Homo sapiens: one gene and its partners. The protein of the gene in region 7 purifies or fractionates together with the protein of the main gene of each other region. This does not show direct contact. Each region holds a gene or a part of one and is shown on either strand. Other genes may lie near its edges. The genes, in order: RAB2A, RTN4, GNB1, PIGR, RAB5A, RAB5B and SCAMP2.

What was found.
Region 1: the proteins of SCAMP2 (region 7) and RAB2A purify together in Homo sapiens (affinity purification with mass spectrometry; one large-scale study listed by BioGRID and IntAct). This does not show direct contact.
Region 2: the proteins of SCAMP2 (region 7) and RTN4 purify together in Homo sapiens (affinity purification with mass spectrometry; 2 studies listed by BioGRID and IntAct, with this or other methods). This does not show direct contact.
Region 3: the proteins of SCAMP2 (region 7) and GNB1 purify together in Homo sapiens (affinity purification with mass spectrometry; one large-scale study listed by BioGRID and IntAct). This does not show direct contact.
Region 4: the proteins of SCAMP2 (region 7) and PIGR purify together in Homo sapiens (affinity purification with mass spectrometry; one large-scale study listed by BioGRID and IntAct). This does not show direct contact.
Region 5: the proteins of SCAMP2 (region 7) and RAB5A purify together in Homo sapiens (affinity purification with mass spectrometry; one large-scale study listed by BioGRID and IntAct). This does not show direct contact.
Region 6: the proteins of SCAMP2 (region 7) and RAB5B purify together in Homo sapiens (affinity purification with mass spectrometry; one large-scale study listed by BioGRID and IntAct). This does not show direct contact.

Annotation. Positions count from the first base shown.
Region 1 is NC_000008.11:60,620,767-60,624,810, forward strand, and holds the end of RAB2A (ras-related protein Rab-2A), read left to right. Parts: coding exon 1-3; 3' UTR 4-2,878; downstream 2,879-4,044.
Region 2 is NC_000002.12:54,973,860-54,977,705, forward strand, and holds part of RTN4 (reticulon-4), read right to left. Parts: intron 906-3,846; coding exon 836-905; intron 9-835; coding exon 1-8. UniProt on the Homo sapiens protein: Required to induce the formation and stabilization of endoplasmic reticulum (ER) tubules. They regulate membrane morphogenesis in the ER by promoting tubular ER production.
Region 3 is NC_000001.11:1,803,495-1,807,959, forward strand, and holds part of GNB1 (guanine nucleotide-binding protein G(I)/G(S)/G(T) subunit beta-1), read right to left. Parts: intron 3,045-4,465; coding exon 2,981-3,044; intron 1,088-2,980; coding exon 925-1,087; intron 1-924. UniProt on the Homo sapiens protein: Guanine nucleotide-binding proteins (G proteins) are involved as a modulator or transducer in various transmembrane signaling systems.
Region 4 is NC_000001.11:206,943,231-206,948,220, reverse strand, and holds the start of PIGR (polymeric immunoglobulin receptor precursor), read left to right. Parts: upstream 1-1,754; 5' UTR 1,755-1,885; exon of another isoform or gene 1,886-1,953; intron 1,954-4,990.
Region 5 is NC_000003.12:19,981,319-19,985,783, reverse strand, and holds the end of RAB5A (ras-related protein Rab-5A), read right to left. Parts: intron 2,077-4,465; coding exon 1,961-2,076; 3' UTR 609-1,960; downstream 1-608. Other genes in the region: PP2D1 (protein phosphatase 2C-like domain-containing protein 1), read left to right, coding at 1-404. UniProt on the Homo sapiens protein: The small GTPases Rab are key regulators of intracellular membrane trafficking, from the formation of transport vesicles to their fusion with membranes.
Region 6 is NC_000012.12:55,976,509-55,980,973, reverse strand, and holds part of RAB5B (ras-related protein Rab-5B), read right to left. Parts: intron 1,603-4,465; coding exon of another isoform or gene 1,500-1,602; intron 1-1,499. UniProt on the Homo sapiens protein: The small GTPases Rab are key regulators of intracellular membrane trafficking, from the formation of transport vesicles to their fusion with membranes.
Region 7 is NC_000015.10:74,845,600-74,849,632, forward strand, and holds part of SCAMP2 (secretory carrier-associated membrane protein 2), read right to left. Parts: intron 3,103-4,033; coding exon 3,001-3,102; intron 1-3,000. UniProt on the Homo sapiens protein: Functions in post-Golgi recycling pathways. Acts as a recycling carrier to the cell surface.

The DNA of each region.
Region 1 (4,044 bases), on a different chromosome or scaffold from region 7:
TGAGTCTGTTTTTACTGTCTAGCTGCCCAACGGGGCCTACTCACTTATTCTTTCACCCCCTCTCCTCCTGCTCAGCTGAGACATGAAACTATTTGAAATGGCTTTATGTCACAGAAGACTTTAATCCGTCAAATTCTTGTATAACTTTGAATAAATGGTTAATGTTCACTTAAAAGACAGATTTTGGAGATTGTATTCATATCTATTTGCATTTGATTTCTAGGTCAATTGATGTGATTATTTTTGTTAAATGTTGTCTTGTGCCCTTAACTACGAACTGAATTGTATTAAACACTACAAAGTCATCTTGAGTATTTTAAATCGGTTTGTGTAGTTAGGTTTCCCAACATCTGTGGTTACCTAATGTTTAATATTATAGAACTGTCCTCAGAAACTTTGTCAATTTTCACGGCTATAAGGAAACAGAAGGACTCTTTTAATTCTGTATTTATCATTTACTTTCTGTATATATAGTTTAATAACCTGCTTGGGTGTAATTTGCCAAGCTTGAATTCTTTAATGCATTTGCATAAATTCTATACTGTTTAGAGCTTAAAGCTACAGAAGCATTGTTAGGAATTGCTTGGACACTGAATTTTAAACTTTTTGACATTGTTAACAAGCATGTTCATCTTTTCTTGTCACTAGTCCAAGAAAAATATGCTTAATGTATATTACAAAGGCTTTGTATATGTTAACCTGTTTTAATGCCAAAAGTTTGCTTTGTCCACAATTTCCTTAAGACCTCTTCAGAAAGGGATTTGTTTGCCTTAATGAATACTGTTGGGAAAAAACACAGTATAATGAGTGAAAAGGGCAGAAGCAAGAAATTTCTACATCTTAGCGACTCCAAGAAGAATGAGTATCCACATTTAGATGGCACATTATGAGGACTTTAATCTTTCCTTAAACACAATAATGTTTTCTTTTTTCTTTTATTCACATGATTTCTAAGTATATTTTTCATGCAGGACAGTTTTTCAACCTTGATGTACAGTGACTGTGTAAAATTTTTCTTTCAGTGGCAACCTCTATAATCTTTAAAATATGGTGAGCATCTTGTCTGTTTTGAAGGGGATATGACAATAAATCTATCAGATGGAAAATCCTGTTACAAAGTAGAAAAGCTTTAGTAATTTACTCAGTGTGGTGGTTTTATCCTTTTTTTCTTTTTCTCCCTTGGTCTATAATGAAATTGTTACAGCAGTGCAAAATAAAATCCTATGTATAAAAGTGTTCTTTTTTTTTATTATGACCACCTCTTTTTTAATGTATTTTTAGTCCACTTACAGCTTTTACATGGGTTTAAGCATGTTTTTTAAAAGGGTCAGAATGGTTAACACTCAACCCTTTTTAAAAATTTTGCTAAAATGCGACAAATCTCACCATACTGAAATTATTTTTGTTGATGGTGTAAGCAGTGTAAGCAAGTGTTTTCTCCTGAACTAGCACAAAAGCACTTATGCCTGAAAGAAAGCATAAAGAAGTTCTAACTCTGAAACTAACTACTTTCATTTCGCTCATGGCCTTCAACTTTCTACAGGTCTTCCCTGAAGATTCAGCAGTACTCTCTCAAAGGTTTGACAGTACTCTTGTGGGAAATCACCAAATGCTGTCATAGTTTTGTTTTAACTGTCTCCTTGAGGGCAGAGGGAAGGGTGAGAGAAAATCTGTTTTCATGGGTATTTGTAGTACAGCCTTTTTTTCTTTCAAGTGGCTGTATCAAATTCACTGGTCTTACTAATCACTGTCTTTACCAGTGAGTACAAAAAGTTAAGGCAACTAGGACAGGTACTGCTCTATACCAAGAAGAGAATGATTCTTTGGAAATTGTTATTTTTAAGCTTCTGTTAATTTTTCCAGAAGTTTAGTGCGTTTCTTTTCCATACTTTCTCCCCTAATTCTTTTATTTGAAGAAGAGAACTTAATGGCAAATAAACAACAAACCAGGACATGCATTTTAATACCCTAAGGAAAAATGGAACCCTCAAATATAACTCCTCCCACAACCACCCTAATGTGCCTCAGTCTGGGGCAGCAGGTGGACTTCTCAATAGTTCTTTTCCACATTCTCTACAAATCACATCTACCGTTAAGGAATATGTTATGAATCCTTTCTGTTAATTGAGAAAGCAATGTTATTGTCTGTGATTTCCAGTCTTTGCTCATTTTATTATCCCTGTCAAATAATGTAATATTGGTACCTGCAGTTGAATTTGTAATATTGTAATTGAATTTTTAGTTGATCTTCGATCAGTTTTTATAGCATCTATGGACATAGAAAATCAGTCACTGAAAAAAATAAACACAGCTTTCAATGTCTCACTCAACATGTAACATTCAAAATTGTGATCTTCATAAAGACATTGTTACCATTCGTCTTGCAAATTTAAGACAACTGAATGAAAAGCCAATTTTTTGAAAGAATGTGGCATATAATTAGATATACAACTGAAACAGGATATACAACTGCATACAATTTGTTTTTAATGATATTTTAAAATAGCCTGTTAGCAGGAAAATAGTCCCTATTTATCTGCTAATGGTCAAAAAGAGTTAGGATATAAATCGTACCAAAATGTTTCCAATCACTCAGAAAAACTGATTCATGTCTGGCTTTGCAACACCTTAAACATTTATTCTGTCATAGATAGTAAAGCCCCATCTCAGTTTATTTAGTCCTGAGGTTGGCAGCATGGGGTTTGACTATATGAGCTAAAAGATACACAAAGAGATAACGCTGTTTCATAATAAACAGGAATTGACTATACAAATAGGTAAACCAGCATATCTACCTGTATTTCTCAGAGTTTAGATGTGTGCTTTATGTTTACATTAAAATAAAGCCTAACGCCACAGTAGATCATCTCATACTGCATTCGGATGTACTAGGTATTATTATTTTTTGGTTGAAGTCACGACAGAGAACTTCATTTTATTTATTTTGTTTATTTTGGGAGACAGGTCTCACTCTAATCCCCCAGGCTGGAGTGCAGTGGCGCCGTCTTGGCTCACTGTGACCTCCACCTCCCCAGGTTCAAGTGATTCTCATGCCTCAGCCTCCCAAGTAGCTGGGATTAGAGGTCCCTGCCACCACGCCCGGCTACTTTGTATTTTTAGTAGAGACGGGGTTTTGCCATGTTGGCCAGGCTGGTCTCAGACTCCTGACCTTAGGTCATCTGCCCACCTCAGCCTCCCAAAGTGCTGGGGTTACAGGTGTGAGCCACCATGCCTGGCCAAAAACTAAGTGCCAGTCTATATATTAGTATTAATTAGTTTTACAAAATTATGAGGCCAATTCTTAAACATTGAAGGACAAAGCACCAAACTCCTGATAGAAAAATGGAGGAAAATGAGCAATTTACAAAAAACATACAAAGTGTCCCTAAAATGCATTTTTAATTCAAATGTGAGTGATGGATACATTAATTTGCTTCACTCTAGTAACCTTCTATTTATGTGTATCCCATAACAGGTATACTTTTAAACACAATAAAATTTATTTTTAAAAATTCAAACAAATGCAAATTAAAGCTCAGATGCCATTTCTCACCTATGAGACTGGAAGAAATGTAAAATACAACGCCACATTGTATTGGTGAGGCACCTTTGTGTGGTGTTGGTAGAAGTGCAAACTGGAACTACCTTTCTGGAGGGGAACTTGGCAATACCTAATAAAATTACATGTACACTTGCTGTTGGCCCAGAAATCCCACTTGTAGGAATCCGCCCAAATGATAATTCTCCAATAAAGCAAAAGCTCCATATGCACAAGGTTACTTTCTGCAGCATTGGTTGTAATTAGAAATTATTGGAAATGACTTATATGTCATTTCCACTTATAGTGATTCAATAAACTATAGTGATTCACTAAACTGTGTCCATCCACACAGTGGAGTCCTACACAGCTATAAAGAAGGGTGAGGAAGAAGATCTCCAGAATACACCAGAAACTAGTTACAAACACTGGGTGGGTACAGGATGGAAAGTAAGAAGACTGGGAATAGGATAGTTGGGACAAGAGGAGAATGTTGCTGCTTTCAG
Region 2 (3,846 bases), on a different chromosome or scaffold from region 7:
AATGAGAGCTGAAAAGGGAAATATACAACTTTTCAAAAAGAACGGAATGATTTGGGAGGAATAAACACTCAAAAAACTATTAAACTGGCAACTCAAGATAACCAAGCAGTGTTCCTAATGAATGAATAAAAACATAAGGATCTCTGGATGCATCTGCTGTTGAGGAGCCACTCCAGAGGAATGAATGAACTGTGTGAGGCTGCAGTTATTAGAGCTAGGAACCATTTCTAGCTTCAAATCATATCACAGTGAGATTTCATAAAATAAAGGTATCCCTGGTTAGATTTATGACTGCACCATCATATAAAGCCACCCTTTATCTGGTTTATCACTGTTTGTTAGTAGGAGCTGTCTTCAGCAACTAAGGTAGCATTTCAATAAACCGGGAAGCAGTATCACCAACTTATTTAAAGAGAATACAACCTCAAACTTATTTTGAGATGGAGTTTCACTCTTGTTGCCCAACCTGGAGTGCAATGGCACGATCTCCGCTCACTGCAACCTCTGCCTCTTGGGCTCAAGTGATTCTCCTGCCTCAGCCTCCGGAGTAGCTGGGATTACAGGCGTGCGCCACCACGCCCAGCTAATTTTTTCTATTTTTAGTAGAAATGGGGTTTCACCATGTTAGCCAGGCTGGTCTCGAACTCCTGGCCCCAGGTGATCCGCCCACCTTGGCCTCCCAAAGTGCTGGGATTACAGGCATGAGCTACCGCGCCCGGCCCACATTTTCATCCCCTACTTTTCATACAATGAGAATATTCTCCACTAAAATGTCTAAGCTCCTGGCACACAATCTTTCCAGCAATTTTTCATCCCAATGGCTTTGTAGACTTACCCAAAATCAGTAGTGTCAGACCATTAAACAAGGCACCAACATAGGTAAATACCCACATCAACACTGCAAACTATAAGAAAATAACATTAGCCCATTATAAACAAAATTCAAGTAAAGTTTCTTAATTATGCTTTCAAAAGCATCCCATCTAAATGCCTACCTACAAAAGGCATACAACTTGAAGACTGGGTAAAGTACCATGAGCAGTTCACTATTAAGTCACGAGTCTCAATTATGAATTTCAAAATCCTAAAATAATTAATAGATTTGACCCATTTTCTCTGGACTACACTACCAAGTAGTTGATTCTGCTGAGATCAGACAATATACCAAGGGTGCATCTTACCCCTCCAGCCCTAACAACATTTACCTTTTAAATGGGAAGACTATAAAGGTGTTATGAGAATTGTCTATTAGAATTGATTTCAAAGTATGAACTAGTTGAGTGCTTGAAGATATATGAGCTGAATAATTCAGACATTAATATCTCAGCTGATAAGCAATAATTGGGCAAAGAGTACTTATCAGGGAAATTACGTTTCAGGTACCAAAAATATCACCTCTAGCCTTTGAAGGATCAGGCACAAAGTCAGTCTGAATTTTGTTAAACATTGGTCATCATCAGTTCCTTTGCTTTCTAATTCAAGGCCTTCATGTGTATGTCTGGCAATCACTTTGACCTACTTAGTAGGTAACAAACATGATGCCACCAGCTACAGTGATTATTTAGGCTTATGTAACACTATAAATGAAAAGGGGAGTAGTAGAGCACCCCCATTATCTAAAGCGGGGATCAGCAAACTTTCTCTGTGAAGAGCCAGACAGTAGAATTTTAGGTTTTATGGGCCACATAGGGTTTGTGTCTCATATTATTCTGTGTCGTTGTCATAACCCTTTAAAAATGTACACCACCCACTCTTAGCTCCCACACTATACAAAAACAGGCCGTGGCCCAAACAAGCAGTGGTTTGCTAACCCTTGATCTAAAGCATATATCTTTCTCCATGTATTAAACGAACTCTGACTGAATGCTTACTGACCATTAATTAAGCAGTCAAACATTAGTAAGCATATTTATTACAGCTTAGGAAGACACTTTGGATGACTCTACCAAGCAACAGTTCTACAAATAGCAACACTCTGGTCACCCTAACTGAATTTAACTAATGTTCAAGTCAGTAAATATCAGGCATTCTTAATATCTGTCAATTGAAAAAAAATTTTTTTAAGCTGCCGTATTCTTAGCAATTGCTATTGGAACCCCTGGTAGAAAGGTTTGAAGGATGACTTCAGTTAGTAAGGCTTTTCTCTCACAGTTTTATAGACTCCTATTGCTGAAGCTAAATATAACTTTTGCACTTGAGCAAGTTTACTATAGAGTAAGAGAGTTATTTTTATCCATCACTATCCACAAGTCTAAAGGGAAAAGTGTTGACCTTCCATATTTTAGAAGAAATTACTCTAGCAACGAAGATGCCCTTAACATGACAGAAGATAGTAACAAACACAAGCTAAAATAACTCCTCATTTGGTCATTACAGTCACTGACAAGGCTTCACTCCAAGTCCACAGGGGAAAAGCCCAAGACTTCACACCTGAGCCACTGTAGGGGCTCAAATGTCACTTGCCTCTTTGAGAACACTTCCTAAAAGCCAGGCTATCCCAAGACAAAGAGAAGAACACAGGGAGGTCTCAAATGTCCTTAGGGCCAGGCAGGTGACATACATGTATGTGAGAGGCTGGGAGAGAACTGAGGCACACAGTGATATGCATTCTTCCTCTCAAAGGGGCACTTACAACCCTGCTCCATACGCTGTGGCCATGCAAATATTCCAGGCCAGTGTTGCCAGAAATGTACACTTTTGTGTGCTATCATATAATTTTTAAATGTTGCAGCTATGTTGAGAAAACTGAATACTTCGGCGGCCCAAAACAGAAATAGTGGTTAAGTGTATTCAGGGAACACACCACCAGGAGAGAAAGGGGTGGCAGCAAGAACTAACCTAGAGAGTAACCATTATTAATGGGAATCCACCACAAATGATGGATTTGTAACATGGCAGGAATAAGGTCAATAAACACTTTAAAGAAGCAAACAGGCTGCTCTCATTTTGGACTTAACAAATTCTACACGATTCCATGGCAAATACTTTGCAACATTATAGCCAATACTTATTAACTGAAGAGGTCAAAGCTTATCTCTCCATTGCACAGTATCGAGACTGGAGGAAGGAGGCCTAAAATGTAATGAAGATCTAACAAATACTTACTGAAAAGGGGCAAGGGCCACATCTGGTTTATCTTTCTTCCAGGGCAATAAGAGAATTAAATTCACTGTGTATAACACACCTGATTAAAGAGCTCTGCAGATTTGTGATGTTTCAATTTGGGGGAAGGGGTATCTTTAAGGCAAACGGTGGGAGAGTGCTTAGTAAGATCTCAGAAATTACTCTGGCAGTTCTGACCATTTCAAAACTTTCCTGCACTCTCAAACTCTAAACTCTACTTGCCCTTCTGTGTCTCCTTCAGATTCATTCATTAGTTGGTAGTTTGGACTCTCTCTATATCCCCAGCCCACTTCCTTCTAATTTTTCTGAGAGCTCAAGAAACCTGAAAGGAAGCTGTCAAAATGTGAATGTTAACAGCTGCCTATGAGCCTGAGAGCTAGATTTTAGTGTTCTTCTGGGTCAGCTATTTCTGGAGCTCAGGCCGTTTTTTTTTTTTTCTTCCTCTCACTTTCAGATTTAAGATTGTGTTCTGGAACATTATAGTTGCGCCTCAATTACAGAAAAGTAAGAACCTCTGCTGAAAATACCTGGTCTTAGTCCCTAAAAAAGTAAAATTATTAGACAGCTTTTTGGGATTTGAGGTTTCAAAAGACAGGAACCTGCTAAGAAGGCTCAGTCAGACTCAATTAGCCCAAAAGCTGAGCCCAGTAGGCATTGTCATATGCTTTTCTTTCATAATTGCGGGTGGGAAGCGAGGGGAGGGAGGATTTATAGTTTAATGCC
Region 3 (4,465 bases), on a different chromosome or scaffold from region 7:
TGGTCTCGAACCCCTGGCTCCAAGCTATCCTCCTACCTTGGCCTCCCAGAGTGTTGCAGTTACAGGCATGAGCCACCATGTCCAGCGCAAATCCACAGGTTTCTTACTGGTAAAGGCATATCAGGCTTGTTTTTAGTTTCATTTTCAGAAAACTTCTGGCCATTACTGTGACTTTTATTTGAACCAGTCTCATTTAATGATTCATAAGGCCGGGCGCAGCGGCTCACGCCTATAATCCCAGCACTTTGGGAGGCTAAGGCAGGCGGATCACAATGTCAGGAGTTCAAGACCAGCCTGGCCAATACAGCAAAACCCCGCCTCTACTAAAAATACAAAAATTAGCTGGGCGTGGTGGCGGACACCTGTGGTCCCAGCTACTTGGGAGGCTGAGGCAGGAGAATCGCTTGAACCCAGGAATCAGAGGTTGCAGTGAGCCAAGAATGCGCTGCTGCACTCCAGCCTGGGTGACATAGTGAGACTCTGTCTTTAAAAAAAAAAAAAAAAAAAAAGAAAAAAAGGCTGGGTGTGGTGGCTCACACCTGTAATCCCAGCACTTTGGGAGGCTGAGGTGGGTGGATCACGAGGTTAGGAGATCGAGACCATCCTGGCTAACACGGTGAAACCCTGTCTCTACTAAAAATACAAAAAAGAAATTAGCTGGGCGTGGTGGTGGGCGCCTGTAGTCCCAGCTACTCAGGAGGCTGAGGCAGGGGAATGGCGTGAACACCCAGGAGGCGGAGCGTGCAGTGAGCCGAGATCACGCCACCGCACTCCAGCCTGGGTGACAGAGCGAGACTCCGCCTCAAAAAAAATAATTAATTAATTAATTAAAAAATGATTGATAAAAAGTGAGTATCCAAAGCATATAATGTACCCCAGGTAAACAGCTTGTGTCACTTGAAGCTTATGAACAAGGACAGGTACCTGTGTGTCCTGCCAGCTCACGACTCACGCGCACGTTCCCCTCACGAGTTTTCAGATTGTAAATGGAGCAAATGTTATCCAGGCCACCGCAGGCCACATAGTTCCCAGAAGGGGCATATGCACAGGTCATGACCCAGGAGGAGCGCAGAGGGATGGCGTGGACCTAATGACAGAAAGACAGATGATGCAAACAACTTTATGTTCAAAAACAACACTGACACCAGGATTTTCTCATCTCCAACTTTCACTGCAAAGGAGGTAACAGAACAAAATAAGAGCCAAAATTATCTAGAGAGCGATTCCCATATGTGGCCACTCAGGTGAAGCATACTTAATGAGAAGTCCAGTGCTGCACATGGGATTCAAATTCAATCCACACAGTCCAGTTTTACTGAAGTCACAACTTATGATTAGGTGGAGTCTTAACAGTAGTGCTGCCCACTCATCAAAACCACATTAGGCCGGGTGCGGTCACTCACGCCTGTAATCCCAGCACTTTGGGAGGCTAAGTCGGGCAGATCACCTGAGGTCAGGAGTTCAAGACCAGCTTAGCCAACATGGTGAAACCCCATGTCTCTACTAAATATACCAAAATTAGCTGGGCGTGATGGCGCATGCCTGTAGTTTCAGCTACTTGAGTGACTGGGGCAGGAGAATCACTTGAACCCGGGAGGCGGAGGTTGCAGTGAGCTGAGATCACGCCACTGCACTCCAGCCTGGGCAACAGAGCGAGACTCCGTCTCAAAAGAAAACAAACAGGCCGGGTGCGGTGGCTCATGCCTGTAATCCTAGCACTTTGGGAGGCTAAGGCGGGTGGATCACCTGAGGTCAGGAATTCGAGACCAGCCTGGCCTCAAATTGGTGAAACCCTGTCTGTGCTAAAATACAAAAATTAGCTGGGTGTGGTGGTGGGCGCCTGTAATCCCAGCTACTCAAGGAGGCTGAAGCAGGAGAGTCGCTTGAACCAGGGGGGTGGAGGCTGCAGTGAGCAGAGATCACGCCACTGCACTCCAGCCAGGGCGGTAAGAGCAATGCTCCGTCTCAAAAACACAAAAAAACCCACACGTATTGGAAGGAAAACACTGCATTATCCTGTCAAATGGCTATGAACTCATCTGAAAACAAAAAATTTTTTTTTCGAGATGGAGTTTCGCTCTTGTTGCCCAGGTTTGAGTGCAGTGGCGTGATCTAGGCTCACTGCAACCTCTGCCTCCTGGGCTCAAGCAATTCTCCTGCTTCAGCCTCCTGAGTAGCTGGGATTACAGGCGCCTGCCACCACTCCTGGCTAATTTTTTGTATTTTTAGTAGAGACGAGGTTTCACCATGTTGGCTAGGCTGGTCTCAAACTCCTGACCTCAGGTGATCCACCTGCTTCAGCCTCCCAAAATGCTGGAATTACAGGTGTGAGCCACGGCGCCCAGCCGAAAACAAAAGATTTTTATGGAATAACCAAAATGGACATTCCTACAATCTACCCTGCCACATCTCTCCCACTGTTTTAGATCTGCTGTAATTAATGCAATCATTTATACACATTTAGTATTCTTTAGTAAAATAAACTGAATTACATCTTTTACATACATGTTTGGACCAATGACAATACTTTTTATTCAAAACAATACACTTTGGATTAAGTCTTGAAAATAACATAAATTACACTTTAAAGTATGATGTCTTTCAGATGATCTCTTCTAAAAACTTGTAACTGAATGAAAAGTGATACTTCTGCACTCTATAAATAAAACATGAAACTTCCCAGACTCTGCTAAAACTGGAATTGAGGTCTCCTAGAAACACAGAAGGTCCTTAGCTCCCACCAGCTTGGTAAGGAGATGACGGACAACAGCACAACTGTGCCTGGTCCAGAGGAAGAGACCGTGACAGGTGGCACGTGACTCAGCTTCTATCTCACCTGCGCAACTTCACTACTAACAAACAGAGCTTGCCGCTGCTGCCTTCCCTATCCTGTATTACGTGATTTAACAAAATGAATCCAGAGCTTAAAACCCTGTTTCCTGGGTTGGTTTTTCAAGGAAGGGAATCCTCCAGTCCCTACCTTGTTGGTGGTGTAGCTGTCCCAGATGATAAGTTTACCATCCTGCGAGGCACTGACGAGAAGCCTGGAGGGACAGACAAAAGCAAACCTATCAGTACCGCACAACACAGAAAGTGTACAAGAGCAACAGACTAAAACCCAGACTCTGGTGGCTTATGTGCTCCCATGTTACATGTGCTTCAGACAAAGCCACTTATTTATAAGAAAAAAAATCTCTGGTCGGGCACAGTTGCTCACGTTTGTAATCCCAGCACTTTGGGAGGCTGAGGTGGGCAGATCACATGAGGTCAGGAGTTCAAGACCAGCCTGGCCAGCATGGCGAAACCCTGTCTCTATTAAAAATACAAAAATTAGCCGGGCATGGTAGTGCGTCTCTGTAATCCCAGCTACTCGGGAGGCTGAGGCAGAAGAATCGCTTGAACCTAGGAAGCGGAGGTTACAGTGAGCCACAATCATGCCACTGGACACCAGCCTGGGCAACAGAGTGAGACTCTGTTTCAAGAAAGAAAGAAAGAAAGGAAAGGAAGGCTCTAAATGTCAGACCAACTTCAAAGCATGAACAAAAACACTGTCACAGACCACAGTTGAGAGTGGAGATGCCTGGCCCCAACCGAATGCAGGCCACATCACCCCTGGCACCCATTCCCTTTGTCAGCTGAGACAGGCTGACATCATTTCATAAGTGTTTCTGTTTGGTTTCATTACAAATCAAATTAGAGGCTCATGTCTTTAATCCCAACACTTTGGGAGGCCAAGGTAGGTGGATCACAGGAGTTTGAGACCAGCATGGCCTCATGCTAGCATGGTAAAATCCCGTCTCCACTACAAAAACACAAAAAAATAGCTGGGTATGGTAGTGCATGCCTGTAATCCTAGCTACTCAGGAGGCTGAGGTGGGAAAACTGCTTGAACCCAGGAGGCGGGGGTTGCAGTGAGCCAAGATTGCGCCACTGCACTCTAGCCTGGGCAACAGAGCGAGATCCTGACTGAAAAAAAAAAAAAAAAAAAAAAAAAAAAAACAAACAGAAAGAACAAACCACTTTTAGACATTCCAAATTCATGAAACATTTCTCACCCAAAATACCCCATGAAATTTCCCAGACTGAGCTAAAATTGGAATCAAGGTCTCCTAGAAACCAAAGGAGGCGTTCCCTCCTCACCTGCTTGGTAAACAACAGCACCACTGCGCATGGTCCGGGAGCAGAGACCAGTAACTATCACGAATTTTTTCTTTTTTTCTTTTTTTTTTTTGAGACGGAGTCTCGCTCCGTGGCCCAGGCTGCAGTGCAGTGGCGCCATCTCGGCTCACTGCAAGCTCCGCCTCCGGGGTTCATGCCATTCTCCTGCCCCAGTCTCCCGAGTAGCTGGGACTACAGGCGCCCACCATCACGCCCAGCTAATTCTTTTTGTATTTTTAGCAGAGACAGGGTCTCACCATGTTAGCCAGGATGGTCTCGATCTCCTGACCTCGTGATCTGCCCACCT
Region 4 (4,990 bases), on a different chromosome or scaffold from region 7:
AACTATTTCCTTCTGGAGCCCAAGGCCAGCACAGCATCGTGACAAAGCAAGACCAAAATAATAATGGGCCACCCCTTTTCACTGCCTCAGCAGTAACATTGACCACCCCCTCACCCAAGACCGCTCTCTCCAGACTGGACCCCAGGGGAGAGAAGGGAGACAAAAAGGAAGGGAACTCCATAATGAGGCTAAATTTTAAATCTGGAGTGAAGTGACTGAGAGATCACTGAATTGGGCTGAGCTTGCCTAGAAGTGACTAGGTAACTTGTTTTCTTTTATCAGTCAGATTATGGGTTTAGGGTTTGAAATTAAGCTACATCTGGAAGCCATCATCCTCATCAAACTAACACAGGAACAGAAAACCAAACACCACATGTTCTCACTCATAAATGGGAGCTGAACAATGAGAACACACGGACACAGGGAGGGGAACATTACACATCCGGGCCTGTTGGGGGGGGTGGGGGGAGGGAGAGCATTAGAACTAATAGCTAATGCATGTGGGGCTTAATACCTAGGTGGTGGGTTGACGGGTGCAGGAAACCATCATGGCACACGTTTACCTGTGTCACAAACCTGCACGTTCTGCACATGTAATCCTGGAACCTAAAACAAAATAAAAAAAGAAAATCTAAGTTTGCAAACCACAAAAAAAGAGAGAAATTAAGCTACATAAAGAAATTATGGGGTTTTTTTGCTTGCCATTGAAATCTGTGATTGTGTGTTAACACCCACAAGTGAGCCAGTGGTTAGCTAAAATAAGACCCAGGGCTCTGGCTGCCTTGTGTTTCTCCAGGGCTCTATTTCTCTATTTTTCCTTCCCCTTCTGGTGTTTGGCCTATAGGACTCTGTAGGGAGAGCCTGGGTCAGCCCTGCACAGGTAGGATGGGCAGCATTTCTGTGGGGGTTTGCAGTGAGGGGTCGGGGGGCCATACACGTGTGTGTTGGGGAGTGGGCTTCACTTTTGTCACAGGACTGCCACGATCATTTGGGGAACACCTGGGAGTCCCAACCAGGTCATGTTTTGGCATGGACTAACAGATAGGGAAGGAGGTGCTACTTCAGCTCAGCAGGTCAGCACCGTCCTTGCTATGGAGCCGAGCCCGGGTCCTAACAAGACTCTGAGGTCAGCCATGTTCAGGGGAGCCCAGAAGCAGCGAGTCTTTCATGACTCTGGGGAGTGAAACAGGAAGGGCCACAGTCCTGCCAGTTCCTGGAGCTCTGGGACTGGTAAAAGGGGCTTGGCAGGAGGTGTATAAGGGGCATTTTTGTCCAGGCTAAGTAACCTAGGGAGTCGGAGGGGATTCCAGAGCAACTGGGGATATGAGACCAAGGACTACGACAGCCACTCCTGCCACCTGTGCCCCATCAGATGATGTCAACTTCAAATCAAGCATTGGGCCAGGTATTTTAGAGCTAATACCGGGCTATATCCTCTACCTGTAGATTTGGTATTACCATCCCTCTTTTCCAGATGAAAAGAAATAGGAAGGTGACTTGCCAAAGGTCTTGCAGCTAGAAAGCGACAGAACAGCATCTTCACGCTTGACATTCTGTCCCTCATCCTGAAGCTGCAACGATGGAGGATTCCCAAGTAACAGAGTCTCCCCAAGGTCAAAGGAAACCAAATGGAGCCAGCCAGGAAGGCCAAAATGAAAGGAAAGCAAGGGATCTGTGAGAGTCACATGACCCTGGCTGGCCACGGTGCCTGTGGGAGAGTGGCCCTTTAAGAGCCCAGGTGTGGGTCAAACACTGAGCAGAGTTTCAGTTTTGGCAGCAGCGTCCAGTGCCCTGCCAGTAGCTCCTAGAGAGGCAGGGGTTACCAACTGGCCAGCAGGCTGTGTCCCTGAAGTCAGATCAACGGGAGAGAAGGAAGTGGCTAAAAGTAAGTGTTACTGCTCTGGGATCCCCAGACGGGATGCTATCTGGAAAGGGCTCGGGACGATGGCTCAGGTAACCCCCTCCATTCCCAACTCCCAGTCTCCTAGATAGTGGGGTGACAAGGACAAGGAGGCAGACTGTGTGACTGTGTGTGGCTGGGGAGTAAGCGTGCATATCGCAGTGGGACGAGTAGGGATGCACGTGTGTGGAAGCCCCCCATCCTTTTCTGAGAAATATCAGCAGGTGGGAAGGGACCTCTGTGGTCAGCATATGTAATTCTACTCTTTCAGCTTGGTCTGTGCCTGGATTTCCTAACTCCTCATAGTTGATTAACTGTGTGGCCTTAGACAAGCCACCTAACCTCTCTGATCCTCAGTTTCTTAATCTGTAAAACAAAGATAGAAATAACACCTATCATTCAGGGTCAATGTGGGTTCAAATGAGAAAACACAGGTGAAATAGCTTTGTAACCTCTAGAATGAAATAGGAATTGTTTCATATTTTTCAGTTTAGTTTAATTAATCAAGGATTTATTGAACACCAACAGACCTGGAATTAGATAGTGCGCATAAAGTATGGCACCTAGCAAGTCCTCTTCCATTCTTTGAGGTTTCCCACTTGTGGCTTTCTGGCAAAGGCATGTTCAGCTCCTTTTTTCTGGGCTTCCAAGAACCTCTGAAATCCTTTGCAATTCCACCTCGCTTTGCTCTAGCAGATTCCTGCCATGGGAGACATAAATGTGTGTCATCGCATCATCCTGCCCTTCCTAGAGGTAGAAAAAAAGAGGTCCTCACGGGATCACTGAGTGAGGTGGAGCTGAGCCCCACAGGCAGCATGATCAACTCCTGCTGTTCCTCCTGGCTCTGCAGCCAGCAGATCTCAGACATGGGCTTCCCCTCCCTTTGCCCATCCTGACAGCAGCCCAAGCCAGCAGTGGGACCGTCCGGCACAAGGGCAGCAGCGGGTCAAGCTCCATCCCTGACCCCCAGTTCCCTTTGTGCAATTGCCACAGTGCCTGGGGCCATTGAAGCTGCTCCTATTTTGTGCCATCACTTTCCCCCTTCACTAGGGGAATTATAGATCCTTTAACATCTGGAGAGGAGATGCCAATTTCAGGGGTTTAGGTAGAAGGCAGCTGTCTGGTGCCTGGACATAGGTCTTCCCAGAGCCAGATCTGGAATTCTCTCTCCATCCTTGTCCCGCCCCTGGATGTGCTAAAGTAGCAGAAAGAACACTGAGCCAGGAGTCAGGAAAGCAACTCTCTCTGCTTATCTCCTAGTGCCGCTAGACCTCTGTGGCTTTAGGTGATAAAAAATGGGGTCACACAGGCTTCCATTTAGTAAACCCACTTGCCCTGGGCTTTCACACCTTCGTCTCATTCTCCCTTGATACCAACGAGGAGGTAGGCAGGGTTGGTTTTGTGATGTCATTCCCTAGTTGAGGAAACCAAGACACCGTGAGTCTATGTGAGTGGTGTGAAGTCACCAGCAAGTTTGAACGATGAGGTTTTGGTACAGCCATTTTGATATGGTCATGAGGACATTTTGATGTCACCTAAAAAGCAAACTATCCAACTTAAAAAAAAATACCTATGCATTGTGCTCAGCAGAGACCTTCATCTATGTCTTGCCCTCTCTCTGGAGGGGCTGGGGCTGGAGTCCCAATGTCACTGGCATCGACACAGTATGGTGGAGTGGAAAGAGGCTTTGGCGTCAACATGCCTGGTTATACCCATGGTTATGTAACATATCCTACACATGGTAGGTGCTAAATAAATAGCAGCTAATATTTTCCAGGAAGAAATTTCTCTGTTGGCACCTACCTCTGGGTCCAGGTGTCTCTTCATTTTTTAATTTTTTATTTTTTTGAGATGGAATCTTGCCCTGTCACCCAGGCTGGAATGCAGTGGCGTGATCTTGGCTTACTGCAACCTCCACCTCCTGGGTTCCAGCGATTCTCCTACCTCAGCCTCCTGAGTAGCTGGGATTACAGACCCATGCCACCACACCCAGCTAACTTTTGCACTTTTAGTACAGATGGGGTTTTACCATGTTGGCCAGGCTGGTCTTGAACTCCTGACCTCATGATCCACCCACCTCAGCCTCCCAAGGTGCTGGGATTACAGGCGTGAGCCACTACGCCCGGCCCCAGGTGTCTCCTTATAAGAACTGCCTTTTCCGTGAAAGGCAGAGAGGAAAGAACTGAACAAATTCTCAGTTCGCTAAGATTGAATATCCTGCTTCTTCCTCTCTCCACTGCTTCCTCTCAATAGGAAGACCCTCTGAGGTAAAGCAGAGTGGCTAAGGGCCTATGCTCTTGATCTAGAATCCCATCTAAGTCACTTACCAACTGTGCAACCTTGGGCAAATGTCTCACCTCTCTGTGCCTCAATTATCTCACTCATGAAATGGGGTTGCCCATTTTGTCCCATCTCCTATGGTGGCTGTAAAAATGGAACACATTAACACATGTAAAGCACCTGGAAAGGACTCAGCGTACGTTCTTCTAGCCTAGCCCATAGTGCTTGTCTCCTCTCTTATCCACATGAGTCCAACCTAAGTAGCTCACTCTCCATCTCTCTATCTTCAAAGGATGTCCAGCAAGCAGACTTCTACTCTCATACCAAGTCCAGGGGACCTTTCTTCCTCTGAAAAAGAGGGAAACCTGAGATTAGATGGACAAAGGTTTGGACTCCACACCATGAGAGATGAAGTGCAGTCACTTTAACTGAACAGGAGCTAGTTAAATACATTTTATAAAAAGAAAAACTATCCTTCAGCACAGCTTACACTCCTGCCCCAATCCACAATTGTGGGGACATATGTTACACATATGTTGGGATACTAACTTAGTAAACTGAAAATGATCTAGCACATCCTAGCCTCAGCAGTGAAAAAACAACTGCTAGTTTAAGGACCAGAAAACGTGCCCTCATGCATGATATAATATCATATATATAAAACCCAATAAAGCAGGTCCCTTTGCTCATTTAAAGAGTGATAATGGGGTAGTGACCTCAAATTAGGATTCTGCTGTGGGTCTTGGGGTCGAGAATCCCTATAACCCTTAGATTTCCAACCTGTGTCATGAGGATAACAACATCTATCTC
Region 5 (4,465 bases), on a different chromosome or scaffold from region 7:
TTTCAACCAGTGAACCAAACCTTACTAAATCACAGAGTAATATCCACGTATTGTTTCAGTATAAATCTGTATCTGAAGTACGTGTGTCAACTACAAATTCCAAAGAAAATTTATCCGATTCAAACTATTCTAAATACTGTATTTATAACCCTGAGAATGTAGAAACATTTCCAGCAGAAACGACTCATCGTAAACCTTGCAGTGAAAAAGTAACTGACAGACCAACTAGTGTAAATGATGTGGCAACAAATGAAAAAGAATCAGACACTAAGAGTTTCTATGAAGGCGCAGCTGAGTATGTTAGCCATGAACTTGTAAATGCTGCTTTACTGGCTGGCTCCAGAGACAACATTACAGTTATGGTAATATTTCTCAATGGAAGTGAATATCAGCTTCTGACATAAAAAAATAAAGTTCCAATTATCCAGAGCACCAAAATATAAAGTGATTCTTCAATGATCCAGCTATTAGGATGATTCATCAATACCATGCAAATAATTTTATGAACATAGTAAAGAAAATATAAAAGCGGATACTAGGTCATATAGTATCATTTATATATATTCACTGTTTTATGCCAAAAAAAAGGAAAAGAGAAAAGCCGATACTTGCTTTTTATACCACTTTATTCCAACCTGAGCACCTCAATATAAAACTAAACACTGGTGAACCGTTTTCCTAATTCTGCATTATCATAAATGTACAAGTTCTCCTAGCAGTCCAACACTTAAATAGATTAAATCATCTCTGACACATGGTAGCTTTCATATAATGAAAATACCTAAAATAATTAGTGCAATATACTGAACTGATCAAAATAAAATGAACTTTGGAAAGGAAGGCTGCAAGATTGTTACTAACATATTGCAATACTTTATGTTACAAATTACGGGTACATTGTTTATTATGGTTCTAGCCATGGAGGAACAACTGAAGCCCCTTCCTGTCAAAGGGGGAGAGAGAAATAATTAGCTGTTTTAGTAACAGTACATTTTGTATGCTTTTAAGCAACTCTTAAATATTACAGAAAAGTAATACAGATATGGAGACTACAATGCAGTACCCTATTTACAGTACAGCTGAAGATCGAATTTAAAATAATCAAGTTTGAATATACATAATTGTTAGTGCATTGACTATATTATGTCAAAAGGGAACAAAAGCCCCCTCCCCACCCCAAACAACAAAACCTGTGTAATGGCCAGCGGTGATTAATTAGAAATCACAGACACCTGGTTTATTTCATTTTTGTTAAAGAACTCACATGTTTGAAAGGAACACTGACCATTAAGGTGCATTTATTAGTTCTCAAAATTCCTAAAACAAGATGGGGTTGCATTTGATTTTTACCCCATTTAAAAAAAAAAAACCAGACTGGGTATAATTAAGATACCATTAATACTCTTCCCCACCCCTGACCTTGTATATGTGGGATTATTTTCTTGTGGTTAATTTATTAAAATGTGGAATGTACATTTTAAATACAGGTACCAGGAGAAATGAACATTTGCCTGAATACTATGGCTAAGCATCATAAATAACTTTAGAATCTCCTTCTAAACAAAGAATGTTTTTGAAAAGCCCAAATTAGTAAGTTCCAATTTTTTTTTCACAGGTGACTACTGTACCAGTGTGGAGAAATGGGCTGGTTAACTGTGTGGGCCCAGACAGTCATTTGTCTATATTCCTAGTGATGAGAAATTATTCCCCCTAACCTTCCAATGAAACAAGTGTCCACATAGTTCTCATTTTTCCCTATTGTTGAAACATTAGTGAGAGGGACCCATGCATGTTATTAAAAATTAAGTTCAAAACACTTAAAATAATTCTGTATTAGAAACTTGACTCTATCATAAGTCTCTTCTTTTGGAAGTCATACTGGGCTGGTTAAATGCTCCAATTCCATTGTTATTAACATTTAGGAAGCAGAAGACTATTCCAGCTAGTTCAAACTAGAGGTTTAGTTACTACAACACTGATTCCTGGTTGGTTGTGTGGGTTCGGTAAGGTCTACTCCTCTTCCTCTGGCAGAATTTGCTCCTGGATTTTGTGGTTCATTCTTTGGCAATTTTTTAGCTGAAAGAAAATGATCAAATAAATAGAATATTTGAATACTCATATTAATATCAGTTTCACCTGCTTATCTATAATTTTTCTTTCCAGTTAGGTTACCCCCAAAGTATCATATAACCATATGTTCATTCTTTTCAAATGTTTACTGAGTATTGAATGCCAAAATATTGGTTGCTGTCTTAGGGAGTTTGATTTCTGGGGTAATTGTGTTGGGGGAACGGTAGATGGGGACTGGTTGTAGATACAATTAAAACTTAAGCCTAACTAGTGCTTTATGTAATTCTCTATACCGATTCACTCAATAATACCAGAAAAGTTCTATTTTATTTTATACTCATTATTACTTCTTTTTTTTTTTTTTTTTTGAGATGTAGTCTCACTCTGTCACCCAGGCTCACCTAGGCTGGAGTGCAATGGCGTGATCTCAGTTCACTGCAACCTCCACCTCCTGGGTTCAAGTGATTCTCGTGCCTTGGCCTCTCGAGTAGCTGGAATTACAGGCATGCCCCACCACACCCAGCTAATTTTTGTTTTTTAGTAGAGACGGGGTTTCACCATGTTGCCCAGGCTGATCTTGAACTCCTGACCTCAGGTGATCCACCTGCTTCAGCCTCCCAAAGTGTTGGGATTATAGGCGTGAGCCATGGCACCTGGCCTCATTATTACTTCTATTAAATAAAATCTAAGTCAATAAAGATGATGGCCAGCCAGTAAGTTTATAAAGAAGCTCAGCTCATATCAGCGTTCTCTAGACTGCCACAAACATTTTTTAGAACAAGTCAGGATACAAATACCTTTGCAATCATCACCCCAACAAAACTTGTCCTCTACTGTGCAACTAATTATCACCCCGAATTGTGATAGATCATATCTACTATTTCCTTCCTGGCTTCCACAGCCTTTGGCCTTAAAACATCTATATACATGCTCTCTTTTTTTTTTTTTTTAAGAGACAAGGTCTCACTCTGTCACCCAGGATTAAGTGCAGTGGTATGATCATGGCTTACTGCAGTCCTGAGTTCCAAAGTGAGATGGGGTCTCACTTTGTTGCCTAGGCTGGTCTTGAACTCTTGGGCTCAAGCAACTCTTCCGCCTCAGACTCCCACGTGCTGGGACTGCAAGCATGAGCCACCATGCTCGACCGCTTAGTTTTTAAAAGAGAAACTTACACCTTGCAGAGTAACCATCAGCTGCCTTCAAATAAAGGGGAAATAGATAAGAGTTGCATTTTTGAGAATGAACAATTATAATCTATGCTTTGGGCAAAGGAAGGACAGATAACACCCAAGTTAGATGCCTGCATGTGTCAAAACTTAGCATACTGGAGGAAACATACTCACACACAAACATACCTTAGCATGCTAGTGGAAATACACTTAGACACAAACATATCCACATACATTTATACATACTCAACACTTCGTTGTGATCTTAGTTTGAATGTAGCCTGCAGCCATACTTCTTTTCATTTTGGAGACAAGGTCTCCCTCTGTAGCCCAAGTTAGAGTGTGGTGCATCAATCATAGCTCACTGCAGCCTTGAACTCCTGGGCTCAAAAGATCCTCCCACCTCAGCTTTCCAAGTAGCTGAGACTACAGGGTGTGCACCACCATGCCTGGCTTTTTTTTTTTGGTAGAGATAGGGTCTTGCTCTGTTGCCCAGGCTGGTCTAGAACTCCTGGCCTTGAAGATCATCCCACCGTGGCCTCTCAAAGTATTGGGATTATAGGAGTGAGCCACCTCAACCAACCTCATTTTCTCCTTTTATGGGCTGATGAATCCTAATCTGACTGACCAGTAGCTGTACCTAATCCAGATAGAATTATCCTGAAGACCTCATCTCCAAAAACTATTTCTTAATTTTATTTGAGTCCGATGAGTGTGGCTTGTCAAATTCAGACAACACTCTCAACCAGCAGTTACGGCTTTACCTCTGCCAAGCTCTATACAGCTAGTGGCTGTTCTCTGGAGTGTGCTTCCCACTGATTAAAAAAACTTACCTGCTGGATATACAGATGCTCCTTGACTTACAATGGGGCTACATCCTGATATATCCATCCTAAGTTGTATGTTTTTGATTTATGATTTTTTTTTTTTTGAGGCGGAGTCTCGCTCTGTCACCCAGGCTGGAGTGCAGTGGCACGATCTCAGCTCGCTACAACCTCTGCCTCCTGGGTTCAAGCAATTCCCCTGCCTCAGCCTCCCAAGTAGCTGGGACTACAGGCACATACCACCACACCCAGCTAATTTTTCTATTTTTAGTAGAGACGGGGTTTCGACATGTTGGCCCGGCTTGTTTCCTGACCAACTCCTGACCTCAGGTGATAGCCCGCCTTGGCCTCCCAAAGTGCTGGGATTACAGGTAGTGAGCCACTGCGCCCAGCCTGATTTAT
Region 6 (4,465 bases), on a different chromosome or scaffold from region 7:
AAGACTTGTCTGATCATTCGCTTTGCAGAGGACAACTTCAACAACACTTACATCTCCACCATCGGAATTGATTTCAAGATCCGCACTGTGGATATAGAGGGGAAGAAGATCAAACTACAAGTCTGGGACACAGCTGGCCAAGAGCGGTTCAAGACAATAACTACTGCCTACTACCGTGGAGCCATGGGCATTATCCTAGCATACGACATCACGGATGAGAAATCTTTCGAGAATATTCAGAACTGGATGAAAAGCATCATGGAGAATGCCTCAGCTGGGGTGGAGCACCTCTTGCTAGGGAACAAATGTGACATGGAGGCCAAGAGGAAGGTGCAGAAGGAGCAGGCCGATAAGTTGGCTCGAGAGCATGGAATCCGATTTTTCGAAACTAGTGCTAAATCCAGTATGAATGTGGATGAGGCTTTTAGTTCCCTGGCCCGGGACATCTTGCTCAAGTCAGGAGGCCGGAGATCAGGAAACGGCAACAAGCCTCCCAGTACTGACCTGAAAACTTGTGACATAAAGAACACCAACAAGTGCTCCCTGAGCTGAGGACCCTTTCTTGCCTCCCCACCCCGGAAGCTGAACCTGAGGGAGACAACAGCAGAGGGAGTGAGCAGGGGAGAAATAGCAGAGGGGCTTGGAGGGACACATAGGTAGATGGTAAAGAGAATGAGGAGAAAAAGGAGAAAAGGGAAAAGCAGAAAGGAAAAGAAGGAAAAGAGAGGAAGGGAGAAGGGAGAGGAATGAATTGAGGAAGTGAACGAAGGCAAGGAGGTAGGAAGAGAGGGAGGAGGAAAGGAAGGAGAGATGCCTCAGGCTTCAGACCTTACCTGGGTTTTCAGGGCAAACATAAATGTAAATACACTGATTTATTCTGTTACTAGATCAGGTTTTAGGGTCCTGCAAAGGGCTAGCTCGGCACTACACTAGGGAATTTGCTCCTGTTCTGTCACTTGTCATGGTCTTTCTTGGTATTAAAGGCCACCATTTGCACAAAAAATAAATAAATAAATAAAAAATAAAATAAAATTAGTCAACTTGTCAAGTGTTACCATACAGCCAACTGCTAAGCAGTAAATGTAGGACTCCTAGTCAGGTACTCCTGCCTCTTATACCACTATACTTCTTAAGGAAGCAGGAAATGCTGAACTCTAAAGAGAACACCAGGACAGGATCGAGAGCTTAGACTGGATAGAGTTCCTGCCTCTATTCAGTTTAGGTAAGTACTTGCTTTGGGACTAAAAACAAATTAAGAAGACCCAGGCCTTCCTTGGCAACTGGGATGCAGTCCCATATCTTTCTGACAGAAGAATTAATTCATCACTACTCTTTTCTAGAAGGTCTATGACCAAACCCTGCCAGGACAGTTGAAATAGAAGCAATTCAATGAGAGGCAATAGGAAAACAAGCGGTAACTTTTGCAGAATTTGGTGGGCCCTGCGATTAATGTGAGAGTTTTACTAAGTAGGGAAGATAGAGCAGAAACCAGTAAATACCTTCATCTCCCTCTCCAACTCTGTTTAAACCCAAGTCACCAAAATCTTGAAATGAGAGTTCTACCACTTGGCTCAGCTCTTCATTTTGTTGATCCAGTGTTACCTAATGAGTCATTGGATTAAATGAGATTCCTTCCACATCTCGCACCCTTTCCCTTATATTTCTCCAAGAGGCAAAAAGCATACTTACCTCTTATCAGTATGGTAGTACAAACTCCCTATTATTGACCTAGGTAAGATTGGAATGCCCGTCCCTACTTGTCTGCCTAGCAAAATTCTATATATCTCATAAGACCAAGCTCAAATGTTACTTCAGTGAAATTACATAATCACCCTCTCCCCCACAGAATTAATCATTCTCTAGAGGCCCGTAGGGTCCCACAGTATTAAGACTGTATTTCTGGCCAGGTGTGGTGGCGCACACCTGTAATCCCAGCACTTTGAGAGGCCAAGGCAGATGGATCACTGGAGGTTAGGAGTTCGAGACCAGCCTGGCCAATATGGTGAAACCCCGTCTCTACTAAAAATACAAAAATTAGCTGGGCATGTTGGCACAGGCTTGTAATCCCAGTTACCCAGGAGGCTGAGACATGAGAATTGCTTGAGCCCGGGAGGCGGAGGTTGCAGTGAGCACAGATTGCACCACTGTACTCCAGCCTGGACAGCAAAGCAAGAATCCGTCTCAAAAAAAAAAAAAAAAGACTGTATTTCTATAATAGTATGTATCACATTATCACAGTATATAAATTGTGTCTGTCTGCTCTGCTAAACTATGAACTTCTTTAAAAGTGGGAGTTTATCTTAAAATCTTCAGAGCACAGCATGCTGCCTGATCCCTAGTAGGTGCTCATTAAATGCTCCCTAAATTAAGGCTAAGTAATTCTACTTCTCTCCCCCAATCAACTCCTCCCTTTCTGTACCATCTGGACAGATCTTACTCAATTCCATTTGGGTTCTTTTTTTTTTTTCCTGAGACGGAGTCTTGCTCAGTCGCCCAGGCTGGAGTGCAGTGACGCGATCTCGGCTCACTGCAAGCTCTGCCTCCCAGGTTCACGCCATTCTCCTGCTTCAGCCTCCCGAGAAGCTGGGGGACTACAGGCGCCCACCACCACGCCCAGCTAATTTTTTGTATTTTGTTTAGTAGAGACGGGGTTTCACCGTGTTAGCCAGGATGGTCTCAATCTCCTGACCTCGTGATCCACCCGCCTCAGCCTCCCAAAGTGCTGGGATTACAGGCGCATGCCACCGCACACGGCCCCATTTGGGAATATTTTTAATAGGCCTCAGAATCAATTCTCTCCCTGGCTCCTCTGTGATCTCCCTTGGATGGAGGGCCCCCTTGGGATCTTGCCCACAAGGTACTATTGCAACTCGCATGGGCTAACTGCTTTTCCTGTCACCCGTTACTATGCCTCAGATGGCCTAATCACACCCAATATGTGGCCCTCCCACCCAAACACTGAGGCAACTATAGCTAAAAACAAAGTTCGCTGAATTTTCAGTTGATGTTGAACGGTCAAAAGCTTTGGGCCACTATCTATTAATTCCTGACTTGAGAAACACAAGTTTAAAAAAAGGAGCCATAACACCACAGAACCAGGAGACACTCTGAAAAGGTACCCACTGTCCCTGAACAGAAGCTACAACCTTGCCCAGAAATGTACACATACTTTGTTCACCTGGGTAGCTCCTTATTCAGTTCAGTTACTGTTGAGTCAATGGCTAAATCTTTCCCAAAACGGAAGTGGGAGTATACCATGTAGGGTTTTATGGTATCCTTCCTCCAAGAGGGCTGCTGCATTTCCTTATTATAAGTTCATTGTCTCACACTTTGGTTACCTTCCAATCTGAAATGCTTTAGGATTAGGGAGCAAACTATACGCTTGCTTCTTCTACCCTATGCCTCCTTCTCAGAAGTAAAATTCATACCAATAAGCAATATTTGCTCCCAGGTAAAGTAAGAGTTAGAAGATATGAGGTATGTTATGCAGTAGGGATTGTCCAGGAAAAAAATTTTAAAAGATATGAGGTATGACTTGAAGGGCAATGGGAAAGCTCTCTTCTCCAAATATATTTTTGCAACTCCAGGTCTATGTATGAAATTCCTTATTGATAATTCTACTCCTAAACTCTCTTAGGATGCAAAAAACTGTTGGAAAAATTAGATAGGATTAAAACACACACACACACACGCACACACGGCCAGGCGCGGTGGCTCACTCCTGTAATCCCAGTGCTTTGGGAGGCTGAGGCACGTGGATCACCTGAGGTCAGGAGTTAGAGTCCAGCCTGGCCAACATGGTCAAATCCCGTCTCTACTAATAATACAAAAATTAGCTGGTCGTGGTGGTGCACGCCTGTAATCCCAGCTACTCTGGAGGCTGAGGCAGGAGAATCGCGTGAACCTAGGAGGCAGACGTTGCAGTGAGCCGAGATCATGCCACTGCACTCCAGCCTGGGTGACAAAAGTGAAACTCCGTCTAAAAACACACACACATACTCCTACACAACTGTCTCTAGGACTGGCTTGCAGGTGAGAAAAGTTCCTTGGGGGAAAAAACCGAGGTTTCCAATGGGCGCTGTACAAAGGCTGGGTACAACAGAGGGCTTTTAAAGCTAGTAAGGACAAATTCAATTAATAAGGTGGTAGTATGAAATGCCCCAGCTGTACTCTGACTCTGAGATTTAGAGGAAAACCGATTTCAAATCCAGATAAGCTTGGAGCTTCTCAGATCCCTACAGAAAGACACACACTGTACTCCAGCCTAAGTGACAAAGCAAGACCCTGTCTCTAAAAATAGAAGAAAAGAAAAGAAAGACAAATACAGGGGCCTCTTAGGAGAACCATCATCATCATGGATAAGAAAGGGATAGTCAAGTAATGTGAACATGCAGAGACCATGAACATCCAGAGACCATGAATTTGAGATAAGGGTCTGAAATTCCTTTCTTTAGCAGAGATGCCA
Region 7 (4,033 bases):
AGGGAAGAAGAGGCCAGAGGGAGCAAAGTGGGAGTGGGCTCCAAAAGTCAGCATAAGGGGCTCTTCTCCAAGTGGCTGCTGTGTCCTGACCATCACCTTGGCATCTCCCCACAGCACAGGGAGCCCTGTGAGCCAGAAGCCCTTGGCCTGTGAGGCCAGACCTCCGTGAAGGCTGACAGGCCCACACTACCCCATTCACAAGGGGAATCTTCTGGTTATGTGAGGTCTGAAAGGGAGGATGTGGTTGCTGCCTTCACAGAGTCAGAAGTAGCACCGGGCTGGGTGCTATGGCTCTCACCTGTAATCCCAGCACTTTGGGAGGCTGAGGCAGGAGGATCGCTTGAGCCCAAGAGTTCAAGACCAACCTGGGCAACAGAGGGAGGCCCTGTCTCCATAAAAAATAAAAAAAGGCCAGGTTCGTGCCTGTAATCCCAGCACTTTGGGAGGCCAAGGAAGGCAGATCACTTGAGGTCAGGAGTTTGAGACCAGCCTGGCCAACATGGAGAAACCTTGCTCTACTAAAAATACAAAAATTAGCTGCGCGTGGTTGCACACGCCTGCAATCCCAGCTACTCGGGAGACTGAGGCAGGAGAATCACTTGAACCTGGAAGGTGCAGGCTGCAGTGAGCCGAGATCATGCCATTGTACTCCAGCCTAGGTGACAGGGCGAGACTCCAACTCAAAAAAAAAAAAAATTAGCTGGCTGTGGTCATACATGCCTATGCTCCCAGCTACTTGGGATGCTGAGGTAGGAGGATCACTTGAGCCCGTGAGGTTCAAGGCTGCAGTGAGCTGTGATCACGCCACGGCACTCCAGCCTGAGCAACAGAGTGAGACCCTGTCTCCAAAAAAAAAAAAAAAAGAAAAGAAAAAAGAAAAAGGGCTGGGCACAGTGGCTCAAGCCCGTAATCCCAACACTTTGGGAGGCCAAGATGGGCGGATCACGAGGTCAGCAGATCGAGACCATCCTGGCTAACACAGTGAAACCCCATCTCTACTAAAAATACAAAAAATGAGCCAGGCATGGTGGCAGGCACCTACATAGTCCCAGTTACTCGGGAGGCTGAGGCAGGAGAATGGCGTGAACCTGGGAGGCGGAGCTTGCAGTGAGCAGAGATCGCGGCACTGCACTCCAGTCTGGGCAACAGAGACTCCATCTCAAAAAATAATTAATTAAAAAGGTAGCACTGGGCCGGGCCTTTTTCTGCTGCTTTGGGGGTGGGGAGTATGGAAAGCGTGGCTGCTCACTCCTGAGGACCCACCTTCTGTGAAGGAGGATCACTGGCCAACTTGCTGTCACCTGTCTGAGCCCCATGTCCTCATCTGTAAAAGGGATATCCTCATATTTCTTGACATCAAAACTTACTACAAAGCTACAGTCACTAAAATAGTGTAGGACTGGCATAAACATAGACATATAGATCAATAGATCAATGGAATAGAACTGAGATTCCAGAAATAAACCCATACACCTATTGTCAGTTAATTTTTTTTTTTTTTTTTTTTTTTGAGATTGAGTCTTGCTCTGTAGCCCAGGCTGGAGAACAGTGGTGTGATCCCGGCTCACTGCAACCTCCACCTCCCGGGTTCAAGTGATTCTTCTGCCTCAGCCTCCCAAGTAGCTGGGATTATAGGCACCTACCAATGCGCCTGGCCAATTTTTGTACTCTCTAGAAACAAGGTTTTGCCATGTTGGCCAGGCTGGTCTCAAACTCCTTCCTGACCTCAGGTGATCCACCCGCCTTGGCCTCCCAAAGTGCTGGGATTACAGGCATGAGCCACCGCACCCAGCCAACTCAAGCCTTCTGATTCCCAGTACAGGTGCAAACGGCAGTCATGAATCACAGCTTTTCTACCAGGGTCTTACTTAGGTAAGGAGTAATGAAATTGGGTCACTGGTCAAAAGGGACCAGATTAACAACAGCAGGGCAAGAAGCATGAGGGGTGGTGGGAGGGCAGCGTGCACTTGTTTGGAGGGCAAGGGGAGGCAACCTTTCTCTCCCCACTGCTCTGGACTTGCCAGCTCTGCCAGAGGGAGGGGACCAAAATAGCACCGCCCTTCCAGGCTCAGGCTGTCAGCCAAGTGCCAGTCTGACCTTTCTGCAATGCTCCCTGTGCACTGGGGCAGAAAGGAAAACATCAGCCATCAGCTTTTCTTTTGAGATTAATTTTGAGCTGAGGACTGAGGTACCCTGGAAACTCAAACCAGCCGTATGCTCAAAGAGGGCAGCCAGAAGAAGCCTGTCCAGGGGAGGTGAGGGAACCGTCTCCTTAAGTTACAAGGCATCTGGAAAAAGTTGCAGCTCAGAGTCTGCAAAGGCCTGGGCATCCATCAGCTTTCAGGAGGGTGTGGCAGGAGAAAAGGAAGAGGCTGCAATCCAGTGCAGGACACTGTCATGGTAGCCTAAAGAGTCAAGCCAAGTTCACCCACAATACCCTGGAAAGTGGAGAGCAAGGGAAGATAGTGTCTTTTTTTTTTTTTTTTGATACAGGATCTCACTCTGTCACCCAGGCTGGTGTCCAGTGGTGCAATCATGGCTCACTGCAGCCTCAACCTCCTGGGCTCAAGTGATCCTCCTGCTTCAGCCTCCCAAGTACCTGGGACTATAGGTGCATGCCACTGCAACAGGCTAATTTTTTTAATTTTTGGTAGAGACAAGGTCTTCCTGTGTTTCCTAGGCTGTCTCGAACTCCTGGGCTTGAGCAATCTGCCTGCCTCGGCCTCCCAAAGTACTGGGATTCCAGGCATGAGCCACTGCACCTGACCAATAGTGAGTGTCTTTTGATGCCTTTAGTATCAAGGAGAAAAAAAAAGTGAGTGGCTACTGATGAAGAACTGGAGAGAAGGCCCAAAGCAGATCCGAGCTGGCCCACTCACCCACTCCCCGCCATGGGAAAAGCAGGGCACTGGCGGGGCTCTGTGGGAGCTAGAAAACAGGGCAAGAGAGGCTGAGTCCCATATCCAAAGCCTAATTCCCTCTGTGATGCCCAGGTCTCACCTGTCCCCCAGGCCAGGGATGCCAACCAACTGGATGATGTAGATCCCTATTTGACAAAAAAATACAAAGAAGAACACAAAGAAGCTGAAAGAGTTGTCGGACCTGTGGAGAGAGAGGGAAATAAGTCACAAGAGGGCTTGGGCTGTGTTCCTCAGCATCCTTACTTGGTGTGACATCCCTCCTCACTAGGAGCCAGGAGGCAGCATGGGCAAGAGACAGAGCTCCAGGGGCCCAGCCATACCACCCGTAAGGACACGCACACACCCCCCACCATAATCAAGAAGAGCTTGCCTTTCACTGCCTTCCAATTTAAGGGGTCAGTGCTTGACCCCTTCCTCAAAGAGCTGATAAAGTTGCTCCCCCAAAGGACAATATAAAGAGCCTAACACTCCTGCAGTGAGCCAAGATCACGCCACTGCACTCCAGCCTGGGTGACAGAGTAAGACTCTGTCTCAGAAAAATAAGTAAATAAAAAACAAAGAACCTAACACTCCATCTCCTGGAGTACTTGCGTTTCATAACAGGCAAGAAAAACTAAGCCAATCTCTTAATAATAAGTAAATCTCTATATAATAAGTAAAATCTCTAATAATAAGTAAAACTAAGTAAATCTCTTAATAATAAAACTGTATGAGGCCAAGAATTTGAGACCAGCCTAGCCAACATGGCAAAACCCTGTCTCTACTAAAAACACAAAAATTAGCTGGGCGTGGTGGTGTGCGCCTGTAATCCCAGCTACTTGGGAGGCTGAGACAGGAGACTCACTTGAACCTGGGAGGCGGAGGTTGCAGTGAGCCGAGACTGCGCCATTGCACTCCAGCCTGGGTAACAGACTGAGATTCTGTCTCAAAAAAACAAAACAGGCTGGGCACGGTGGTTCACACTCGTAATCCCAGCACTTTGGGAGGCCGAGACAGGTGGATCACTTGAGGTCACAAGTTCAAGACCAGCCTGGCCAACATGGGGAAACCCCATCGCTACTAAAAATACAAAAATTAGCCAGGTGTGATTGTGTGTGCCTGTAAGCCCAGCT